Regions from separate parts of the Homo sapiens genome. Here region 1 is linked to region 2. The links come from fine-mapping of genetic effects on gene expression. A gene starts in region 2. The other region holds a variant in brackets. All regions are shown on one strand. Distances are from middle to middle.

Region 1 (5,373 bases), 60 kb after region 2:
GAGCAGTTTTCTTTGCTTTTCTATTTTTTCAATGAAAGGCAGCTGCGTTGATAACTTCAGCCTCAGAGGAATTTTCCTAAACTATGTTAGTGGGGGAAAAAAATCCAGTTAAAATATTTCAATCACTTAAAACCTTAGGTATGTGCTGAATTCAAAAGAAAAGATTCCATTAAGAGGGAAAGTAAATAAGACAACGGGAAAGAATAGAGGTCTCCCTCATCCCCTGCCCTGCCTTGCCCTGGAGTTAAATACAGGTTTATTGCTAATAATTAAGAAGCTCTATTCTATGTACTTGTTGTAGTATACACGTAGCTGAAGATAAAACAAAATAGGACAGAATTACACAATGATTGGTATTGTGGTAAATGCCACAGAGGAGATGGGTTATGAATCATCCCATCTCCACACCACCAGGGCGCTTCATCTGCTTTGAGAGTCTGAGGTGACCAGCCTGAGGAATCGCTAAAATGCCACCTCACAAAACCATCTAAGGAGGGTTGACTTGGTGATGAAGCCTCAGCCCTGGTTCCTCAGAGAGATGTGGCTGAAGGACTCATCGAAAGAGCAGAAAAATACATTTATCAAAATCTAGCAACCCATACCAGGGTACTTCTCTTTCCTAGTGCAATTTTTTGAAAGTTTGTCTCTTCTAAAGTAATCATACATTTTATTTCAGAAATTACTTTTCTTAGTGGTACTCATTTCTCTTATTTCTTTGATAAAAGGTAATCAATTTAAGATTTCCCATTTAGAGATTTGTTTTTCTTTTTCCAAACAATATTTAGCGGAAAGTCATATTTAAAATCAATCGTTAATATTTGTGCCTAGACCACAAGTGTGTATCTAAAATTTAGACAGCAAAAGGATATATGAGGAGAAAAAATATAATTAGTGAAAATACCTTCTGAAATATATGATGCCAAAATTGAAATCAAGAGTATCTACTGTTTGAATGATTATTTTCAATGTTTCTCAATACTGGATGAGTTCATAAACAACAGCCCATTTCTTGAAATATAATTAAGGTATTGGAGAGAGCTCATTTTTCCTCAAGATTTGCATCCTTAAAAAGGAGAAATTGATCCATTTCAATAATAATAGCTGGGAAGAAAGATCTCCCCTTCTCTCCTTCATTAATCCTGAGGGGGGAAAAATGGGCTCTTGTCAAACTAGAAACAGAAACAAGAAAGAAAATATTAGAGTTGGCGTCATCAATTTTGGTTTTCTAATCACCTTAGGAAAGAAAACATTCTAAGTCCAGCCTTTGTGAAGCAACAAATATTGAAGGAGCATTTAGGGCTTCGCTCAAACCAAGACTTCAGACGAGTAAAACTTAATTCGACAAGAAAACCAGCAAAAGACGATGGGGGAATATTGTTCTGTTTTCATAACGTGTTTAGATATTCCATCTCGTGGAGTACTTAGGCGATTGTACTTTTCTTTCTTCTCTTTCAGTTCTCTTATTTTTTGTGGCGTAGAGGAAAGTGAAGCATTTGGAAAGCAGAAAACTTCCTTTCACCCAGATATTTCTTCTAAACAATACTAAAGGAACAGTCAATTTGAATATTTCAGTAATATAAAATCCTATTCAGGTACCAAATTCAACAGCATTTCTTCAATACTGTTTAAGACAAGAGGACTGAGATAAAGAGGAAAGAAATAAACATTGCCCAAAATACTCTTTAAAAACTTTCACATACAGAAATTTACTCAAGAATCTACGCTTTCTGGCTTATTTTACAAGTGTCATTTTCTTATAAACGTTTCTTACAAAAGTTTTCTTATATATGTTTCTTATAAACGTATAAAAGTTTGTAATAAAAGCAGCTCAACCGGGTGGACTGTGGGGTCACCGAAATACTTTCAACTTGGCTTCTTTTCTCAAGATTTCCACCTCAAAAGAGAGAGTACTTCGGGAACTGCAACCCTTAGCAATGCAGCTCAAGTGGCATTTTTTTTTTTCAGCAAAAGCCTCTCAATGGTTTCTGTGGGTTCTGATTAAAAAAAAATAGAGGGGGCCGGTTATGAGTTCTTTTAGACCAAAGCAAGGAATAAAATATCAAGACTTAGCTCTGCTCTGCTATGAAGAGATCATGGAGACTTGAACCTCAAGGTCGCATGTAACTTGGAAGCTGAGACGTGGGGTAGCAAAGAGGAATGGAGGAATAATAGGAAGAGAGGGGCCAAATTCTTACAGAATTCTAAGAAGTCTCTCCTTTGTCCTCACACCAGCTGTAGAAATTATTTTACAATATAAAACTTTAATTATAGGACTTTTTTTTCTTTTTTACCTCAGAAACTATCTCCTAGACGCACAGTAGCATCTCTATCTTCCTGTAAATTTCTTCAGTCTGGTTAAAATGCATTAAAAATTTACAAGCTCAGTTACACACAAACCCAAAAGCTTACCTGAAAATACAGGTAGGACGACAAAAGCAACATTTAGGAAAGAGAGGGAATAAAAAGGAAGAGTATTTCCCTAGAAATATTTTTATTTATTTATTTATTTATTTATTTTTTGAGACGGAGGCTCGCTCTGTCGCCCAGGCTGGAGTGCAGTGGCGCCATCTTGGCTCACTGCAAGCTCCGCCTCCCGGGTTCACGCCATTCTCCTGCCTCAGCCTCCGGAGTAGCTGGGACTACAGGCGCCCGCCACCACGCCCGGCTAATTTTTTTGTATTTTTAGTAGAGACGGGGTTTCACCGTGTTAGCCAGGATGGTCTCCATCTCCTGACCTCGTGATCCGCCCGCCTCAGCCTCCCAAAGTGCTGGGATTACAGGAGTGAGCCACCGCGCCCGGCCCCTAGAAATAATTTTCAAACCAACCAAATCAATCAGTAAATCTCATTTCTAGATGTTTTTAAAAGAGCAGCAATTGATGTATTATTAGAACTGCCTAGAAAGTCCATTTTTGAGGTGTAGAAAAAGCCTTTACATCTTTCCTGAAGGATTCTATTCTACCACTCACAAAAGGAGTCTCTTTGGCAATTCTAAAGCAATAGAGGAAAGGACATCTATGATCTGACAGAAAATGGGAGGTAGCCTTTAACCCTTGTCCGAAGAAGAGTGTAAACAATGTCAAGCATCCAGAAAATTCCAACTGCAGAAGGGGTGGAGAATGCCG[C/G]AGGAGGGGAATCTTGTGGCAGGCACACAATTCCGCACAGAGGATAGACAGCAGCTGGGGGACTGTGGGGGTAGGTGGGGGTGGGGGTGAGAAGAACAGAATAAAAAATACACAAACCTTCCCCAAGGGGAGAGAAGGTAATCTTTAGAGTCTTCCACGCTTCCACTTCCCTGAATCCTCCCCTGGGGGTGGTCTTAGGCAGGGGTGGGGGCTGGAGGAACCAGTTCACCATAGCACAGGGCTGTCTACCTGGGTATTTTCTTGAGTGAGACAAAACTGGAGAAGTAAGACTGTGCTGCCCCAGAATCTTCTCTCAATAGAAGTCACAAGGTCTGCTTAAAATGCTTACAGATGGCCGGGTGCGGTGGCTCACGCCTGTAATCCCAGCACTCTGGGAGGCCAAGGTGGGCGGATCGCCTGAGGTCAGGAGTTCAAGACCAGCCTGGCCAACATGGTGAAACGCTGTCTCTACGAAAAATACAAAAACTAGCCAGGCGTGGTGGCGCGCGCCTGTAATCCCAGCTACTCGGGAGGCTGAGGCAGGAGAATCGCTTGAACCCAGGAGGAAGAGGTTGCAGTGAGCCAAGGTCACTATACTCCAGCCTGGGCGACAGAGCGAGACTCTATCTCAAAAAAAAAAAAAAAAAAGTGTTTACAGAAAGAAAGAATAACTAAATCAAGGATGTAAAATGAAAGTCACATAAAAGATGAAAGAAGGGGGGAAACTTGAACCGTAAGCAGTTGTCATCAAAAATGTATTCGAGAAATCTTCTTGGCTTATCTTTTAAAATATGTTATGACTAAATTCAAATCACAAAAGAATACACAGCTTAAATGATAATGCAGTAAACTAACATAATGGTTTTGAAATCAAGTAGTTTACACTGTTTCTATGAACACTGACAGAAAAATAATGAGAAAATTGCATGAACATCCAACAAAACCTGAGGGCTGGAAGCGCTGGGAATGGGTTTGGTTTGGTTTTCTCACTCAGGCCATCATAAAAATTTATTAAAGAAAAAAAAAGTCAATGTGGAGAAAGGGGAAGAAAAATGGGAAGTGGGCCTGTACCCCAAAGGATGCTGGGTGAGGGGAACAAAAGAAAAATAATTGTCATATCTACATGCTTTCTATCACTTCATGGAGTCTTCAACTTCTCTATGCAAAAGCAACCTTCAAAACTTCTATTTGGGGGAATGTATTCATCCATTTTACCTCCAATATTCCAATATTTCTCTCATAGAGAGGAAAACACAGCTACCATTTTCCTTGCTGAACCTCTTCCGGCCCTGCGTCTGCTGTGTGTGACTGTCAAGTATGCTTCGTGATTATGAAACTTATCTCAGGGAAAGAAATCCATACCCAGGCTCTAATAGATACAAGGGGGAGAGGACGAGAGGAGATGAAATAGCATGAGGTGGATAATAAAATTTAAAATAGTTTTAGCATAGAAATGTACCCTGTATATAAGATCTCATCTTGGTGCTCATTATAGCTTCTGGGTGTATTTTCTAAGCCAGAAGGGTGCAGCTTTGATGCTGTCTCCCTCACGAATCTCAAAGAGAAAAGAAAGTTAAGCCTTCTTCTTCCATGTATTAGCTTTGAAAACAAAGAAAGCAAATGTGGCCTTTCCTTTGTGGCAAAGTCAAGGTTGGACAATCTAGGCGACTGGCTGCTCCTCTCCTCTGGTCAGGGTGTTTGGCTAAAGTGCCCCAGGTCTTGAAAAGGCCAGGCCTTACCTAAGCCAAGCAACCCCAGGCAGAGGGGTGGGCAGAGACCACATGAGAAGTAGAGAGGAAGAGAGAGAGAAATCGAGATGCACTGATTCCAGAGGAAACTGGGGGGTCAGGACACTTGGTGGATGGGAACCAGCTTCCCAGCTCTTCAGAGGTAACCAGTTTAGTGTTTGAAAAACAGAAGGCCCAGAAATCAACCCAGCTGTGAGAAAGGCCCCAGGCCGACTGAGCAGGGATGAACAGGAATGCCCAAACTGATCAGGATTAAGAAGAAAAAATCAGATTTGGGAAATTTTCAAGCAGATGAAGTCCCCCAGAGAGGAATATGCCAGAAAGGACGAGGGTCCGAGGTCTCTACCGCTTTGCCTTAGGGAAGGGTTGGCAGATAAAATATGGATGACTGGTTCCATATGAGTTTCAGGTGAACAACAAATCATTTTTAGCATAAATATGTCTTATGCAATGTTCAGGACATACTTATGCTAAAAAAAAATTACGTATTCTGGGAGTTCT
Region 2 (5,373 bases):
GGCCAAGACAAGAACTCGGTTCCTGGTGACTGCCCAGTGCCCTCCATTCTATGAAGTGAATTTGATCAGAGCACAATGATGCAGGATAAGAATCAGAAAGGGCAGTGCCAAGGTGCAGGGGCTACAAGGAAAGGTGACTCCCCTCGCTATCTGAGGATAAGAGGCAATTGATGATGGCCCAACACTCACAGCTTCTATCTTCCCCACAAAGGGAAAGAAACAGGGAGGCACCTCCCATCCTCTAGGTGGACACAGCCCAGCCAGCAAATCAGGGTATCACGACCAGCTACAGAATTTATGGGACCCAGGAGAAAATGCAAATGTGCAGCTCTTTGTTCAGAAAGTATTAAGGATTTCAAGACAGTGACAGCAGGACTTTAAGCCGAGCCAGAGTCTTTCTGAGTGCAGGACTTTGTGCACGTGTCCTGCTGGCTCAATGTGAAGCCCCTGCCTGCCCTTCAAGCATGGTGGGGTGATGTTCCAGATCTATCATGGATGTGATTAGAGGTCTTGTCCCCTGGTCTGAAAGACATTCCACCCCTCAGGTTTACTACCCTCGTCTGCACTTCATTTTTGAGGTGCCGATGACACAAGGTAGGTAAGTGAGCCCCATGAAAGCTGCTACCAAGGGCTCAGAGGTTATGGGGCTTGGGGATAAAGGTGACCGTGAGGAACCTGAATCAAGACGGCTCCGGGACACGGTGGCAAAGGTGCCTTTCCAGGCTTCCAGGGGCTTGCATTCACAACCATCTCTGAGTTCTCAGCTAAGAATCCCTAATAGGGTACAAGCAAGAGTCCCAAGAGATCCCATGAACACCCAGGGAACAGAACTTAGAGGTGTCTGATCCAAGTCCCAGATCTTAGAGATGGGGAAGCCAATGCCAGAGAGTTGGTGACCCAGGCAAGGTCAAGCCCTCTGTATGGCCTGCAAGATGATGTGCCTGCAGGAGGGGTTCCCTGAACACTGGGAGTCATCAAAGCCTCCCCCTGTCAGAGCCACACTCTCTCCACATGGCCCCAGGAGAAGGCTGACTTCCCCACTGGACGAACCCCAAGACAAATTCAGGATGGTGCTGTCTAGGCCCTAGGGTAAGAGAGTTTCTAAGGACTGCAGGAGAGAAGGGAAGGCCCTCTGTGACCATGGCAGTGGGTGACTGGAGCCAGCCTGTGGAAGGCCCAAGGACGAGCTGATGTGAATTCACCCTGCCTTGGCATCCAGGGGGGCCCACAGGAAGGAAGGGAGCCCATCCCAGGGGAATTCTACCCCGAGTGGACTGTGCAGGTTCTGTCAGGCTCAGCTAAACCCACCCTTAGACTCCCTGGAGACCAGGATGCTTTCAAGGAATTTTAAACCCCTTGGATCCTGGTGGGGTCAACAGTGAGTATGAGCCCCCTTGGCCCCTGGGGAATGAGATAAACTTTCGGGGCTTTCTCTATCTCAGAAAAGAGGCTCAGAGAGACATCTCAGGTATCTAATCCCCCTGGTCAGTTCACTTCATTCAGAGGGAGGGCTCCTCCTTCCACAGGATCAAACTCAGGATTGAGTTTCTCTTGGGCCAGGCCCTCAGGGGGGATGTGGGTCACACCCCTGACCTGCAGAAGAGACCTGGGCTGGCAAGAGGCCCCAGCAAGAGCTAAAGGCTGTGCCAGGGCAGGCTCTGGGCTAACTGAGCGGGGCTGGGGTGGAGTGAGGTCCTCCTGGGAATGAGCAGATGTGGGCCTGGTCCGGGAGCCACGTTCCTCACCACAAAAGGCTGACTTACTCGGGAGTGTTGATCCAAATGATGTCCAGGTGGCAATAGTAGACACACTCCTTGTCCTTGTAGGTGAAGCACGTGCAGCGCCTGGATCGGTGGTGCTCAGGGGCCCCCTCGGCCGCCTGCTCCTGCCCAGGGCTTCCAGGGCTTGGACCCTGCAGTGCTGTCGGGGCCACAGTCCCCTCGCCAGGGCCAGCCACAGTCTCCTCGCCAGGGCCAGCCACAGTCTCTTCACAGTCCCCCTCAGATCTGGCTGCAGTGGGGGCCTGGGACACGCCGCGCCTGCCAGCATCCCCAGACTGGGAGCAAGGCACGAATCCTGCAGAAGGCAGATTGAGGGGCTCCTAAGCTGAGTGTGCAGACCCCTCAACACCCGCCACCCCCAAACACCTGAGGAGGGGGGTGGAGCAAGCAAAATGTCTGCAAAGTTTCCAAAGCTCTGCGCAGTTTCTGAAAAGTTTCCAAGCTATCTGCACACTCTGTGAAAAGCTTGCAAGCTATCTGCACCCGTTGAAAACTTGCATGCATTTTGCATACTTTCTGCAAACTTTGCCAGGGTTTGGCACAGCCTCTGAATAGTTCGCAAACTTTCTGAAAAGTCCCCAGTTTCATGAAAAATTGACCAAGTCGGCCCAGGCAGCAGGTCTCCAGCCAGTGCGCGGGCTGCAACTCCCGGAGCCCGTGCGGGTAGTCGTTGCGCGCCGCTTCTGCTCCCCAGCCCTCCCCCAGGCGTCTTCACGAGTGCAGAGCCCAGGCAAGAGTTTGCTCCCCGCGACGCACATCTTCTCCGCGCCTCGGGTCCCCCGCCCTGGGTCCTTTTGTGTGCGCTCGCGCCAGGAGAGGCGCGCCGCCCCGTGCGCTTACCTGCGGCGGAGGTCACTGTGAGCCCGAAAAGGAGCCACAGCCCCGGCTCCATGAACCTAGATCAGGCGCCGGAGCACCGGACCAGGAGGACGGCCGCTTGTGGCCGCGAAAGGGCACTGGGGCCGGGTACAGCTGGCCTCGCCCTCCAGCTGTGGGGGTTCGAGGCCGGCCGATCGCTCGCTGCGTCTCCAGCTCCGGCCAGGAGTTGGCTGCGGCGGTCATAAACTTTCAGAGCGCGCTGCCCATCCCTGCGCGGAGCTGGCCGGCTGTGGCTCGGGCTTTTCTGGCTTCTGCACCACCCCCGTCGCCTCCCCGCCCCCCAGAGGGGCTGGAACTGCCTCGCCGGGCCTTTGAACCCGGGCGCACTGGGGGTCGCCTCCCAGGCGCTGGGGGGAGCTGGCCAGGAGCGCAGCGGCCCGAGGCGCACCCAGGACAGCGAGGGGCGGGGGCGGCGTGGCGTGGCGCGGCTGGGTGGGGTGGGGTAGGGTGGGGTGGGGGCCGGGACAGCTGCCAGCTGCCGGAAGGCCACGAGAGCGCGCGCACACACGCACACGCGCGCTCACACTCACAGGCGCACCCCCGCCCGCCAGTTCGCCGCTCCGGAGTAGCAGCCCCCCATCCAAGAGCAAGAACAGATGAGAAAAGGCTGTGCTCAAGGGGTGTTATCTTTTCTATCAGGGGCTGAGGGAAAGACACATTTCTCATTGTTCCCCGAGTGACACCTTCCCCTTGAAGAGCCTGCTTGCCAAGGAACTCGGTGTACTTTACACTCTTGACTCACGCCTCGGGCTGGCTCCCTACCTCTCCCAGGAGTTCAGAGCCTGCGTGTGGGGCAGTGGCCTGGGAGCAAAGTCAACAAAGATCCTGGGTTAGCGGTCCTGTGGTGTCCAGGGCTTCCTCAGCCATCTGCACAGGTTGGGTGGCTTCAGGTGAGAGTCGGGCTCCTCTCCCTAAAGGCCAAGTTCATTCACACAACCGTCCCTACCAAGGGAAATGACCTCCCAAGAGAGCCCCCTACTTCCTTCATAGCCTTCCAAGTCCTGTGTGTGGGAGGCTGTCCCCATCTCCAGCTCAGATAAAAATGTCTGAGACTGGGAAGTCCTCCTGACTTCTCAGGGCACTTGTGGTCAAAGGACCCTCCTTTCATAACAGATGGGGTTGGGGGAGGGGCAGTGCTTCACATCTGTAATTCCAGCTCTTTGAGAGGCCAAGGTGGATGGATTGCTTGAGCCTGGGAGTTCAAGACCAGCCTGGGCAACATAGCGAGACCTCATCTCTAAAAAATGGGGTTGAATTGGGTCCTGCCCTCTACTAGCCTTAACGACCAGCTTCTGAAAACTAGAAAGCAGCTGAAGTGACCAGAGCAGTTTCTGAGGACAGTCCAAAAGAGTGCTACAACATCCCCCTGGCTTGATAGCTCAGGACACCTGTCCTCTGAACACAGCTGCTGTACCAGGAGGAAGCCCTAACAAGCCCACCTGGAGAGATCACCTGGAGAAACCTACGTGGAGAGAAACCGAGGCCTCCCAGCCGACCACCAGTGTCAGCCACTGACCTGAGTGAATGTGCCTTCCGATGATTTGAGCTCCCAGCCCTCAAGACTTCCAACTGAGGAATAGCTGTCCCGCTGTACCCTGTCCGAACTTCCCACCCACACAATCCATGAGCATAATAAATGGTTGTTTTACAGCACTAAACTCTGGGTAAATTGGTACAGAGCTGCAGTAACTAGAGTAGCACTCAAGCTTCCAGCACTGAAGCTGATGCTGAAGTTCTCCATCCCCCCACTCCCATCCCATCCTGCCTAGCCCTTGAATCCAAGTGTTTATTTGTTTGTTTTTGCACTTGATGCTTTGAAAATAAGAAAAACCCAAGACTCACAATATCTTCTGTTCCTGCTGGGCTAGAATTTGGATCATTTTAGTATTATCTTTGTTTGTTGGGGCTACTATAACAAAACGCCATAAGCTGGGTGGCTGATAAACCGCAGAGTTTTATTTTTCACATTTTTGGGGTCTGGAAAACCAAGATCAAGGTGCTGGTAGATTCGGTGTTTAATAAGGGCTCGATTTCTGATCATGGATGGTGACTTCTCACTGCATCCTCAGTTGTGGAAGGGTCAAGGCAGCTCTCTGGGGGTCTCTTTTCTAAGGACACCAACCCCATTCATGAGGGCTGCAACCCTCATGACTTAATCACCCCTCAAGGGCCCCACCTCCTGACATCATCACCTTCATGGATAGGATTTCAACAGATAAATCTGGAGAGGACAAATATTCAGACCATAATAATTACTATCTCTTTGGAATTAAAATTTCCATCTTCAACAAAATAAAAAGTTCTTGGATTGGGGGATGGCTGGAGGAATAGAAAATATACTAATCAGCTAAAAGGAGAAAAGGAGTAGGAGGAGGTTTCCGGGTACCATGTTCAGACACAGGAGGTATCATGGCTGCTTAGACCACTCTCTGGGTCTATGGCCTTCAGTAGCTTGAAGCCGACCACCACTTGTCTTCACTGGGACTAAAAATCAACAAACCCTGGATGAGCCTCTCAGGCACCAGGAGGTGCTAGCCAAATACCAGGATGGAGCTGGCCCTGCCCTCTGGGTCTTCTACTCTAGTTGAGGTAAGGAAGTTCAGAAATAGATCGCCAAGGATCCAGGATGCTGAGAACATAAAACGCCGCACAGAGCTAAGAGAAGAAGACAGTGTGTTCAGCTGGATGATCAGAGGAGGCAGCATTGTCCTTG

Alleles and levels. Positions count from the first base shown, and alleles are read on the strand shown. Sizes are in standard deviations (SD) of each study's normalised expression.
For the expression in tibial nerve of the gene that starts at base 2,875 in region 2, allele C in region 1 goes with a lower level than allele G (large effect, 1.2 SD a copy in GTEx).

The links.
Region 1: its variant is fine-mapped to the expression of EDN3 in tibial nerve (GTEx, PIP above 0.99).

The regions. Positions count from the first base shown.
Region 1 is chr20:59,237,949-59,243,321 of GRCh38, reverse strand. The region is part of intron 4 of ZNF831 (zinc finger protein 831); the gene reads right to left. Among named protein-coding and RNA genes, the nearest start is that of EDN3, 60 kb to the left of the region's middle. The variant C/G (reference allele first, on the strand shown) is at 3,125.
Region 2 is chr20:59,298,113-59,303,485 of GRCh38, reverse strand. EDN3 (endothelin 3) reads right to left here and starts at 2,875. Exons shown (of 5, transcript NM_207034.3): 1 at 2,622-2,875; 2 at 1,764-2,076. The coding sequence starts at 2,673.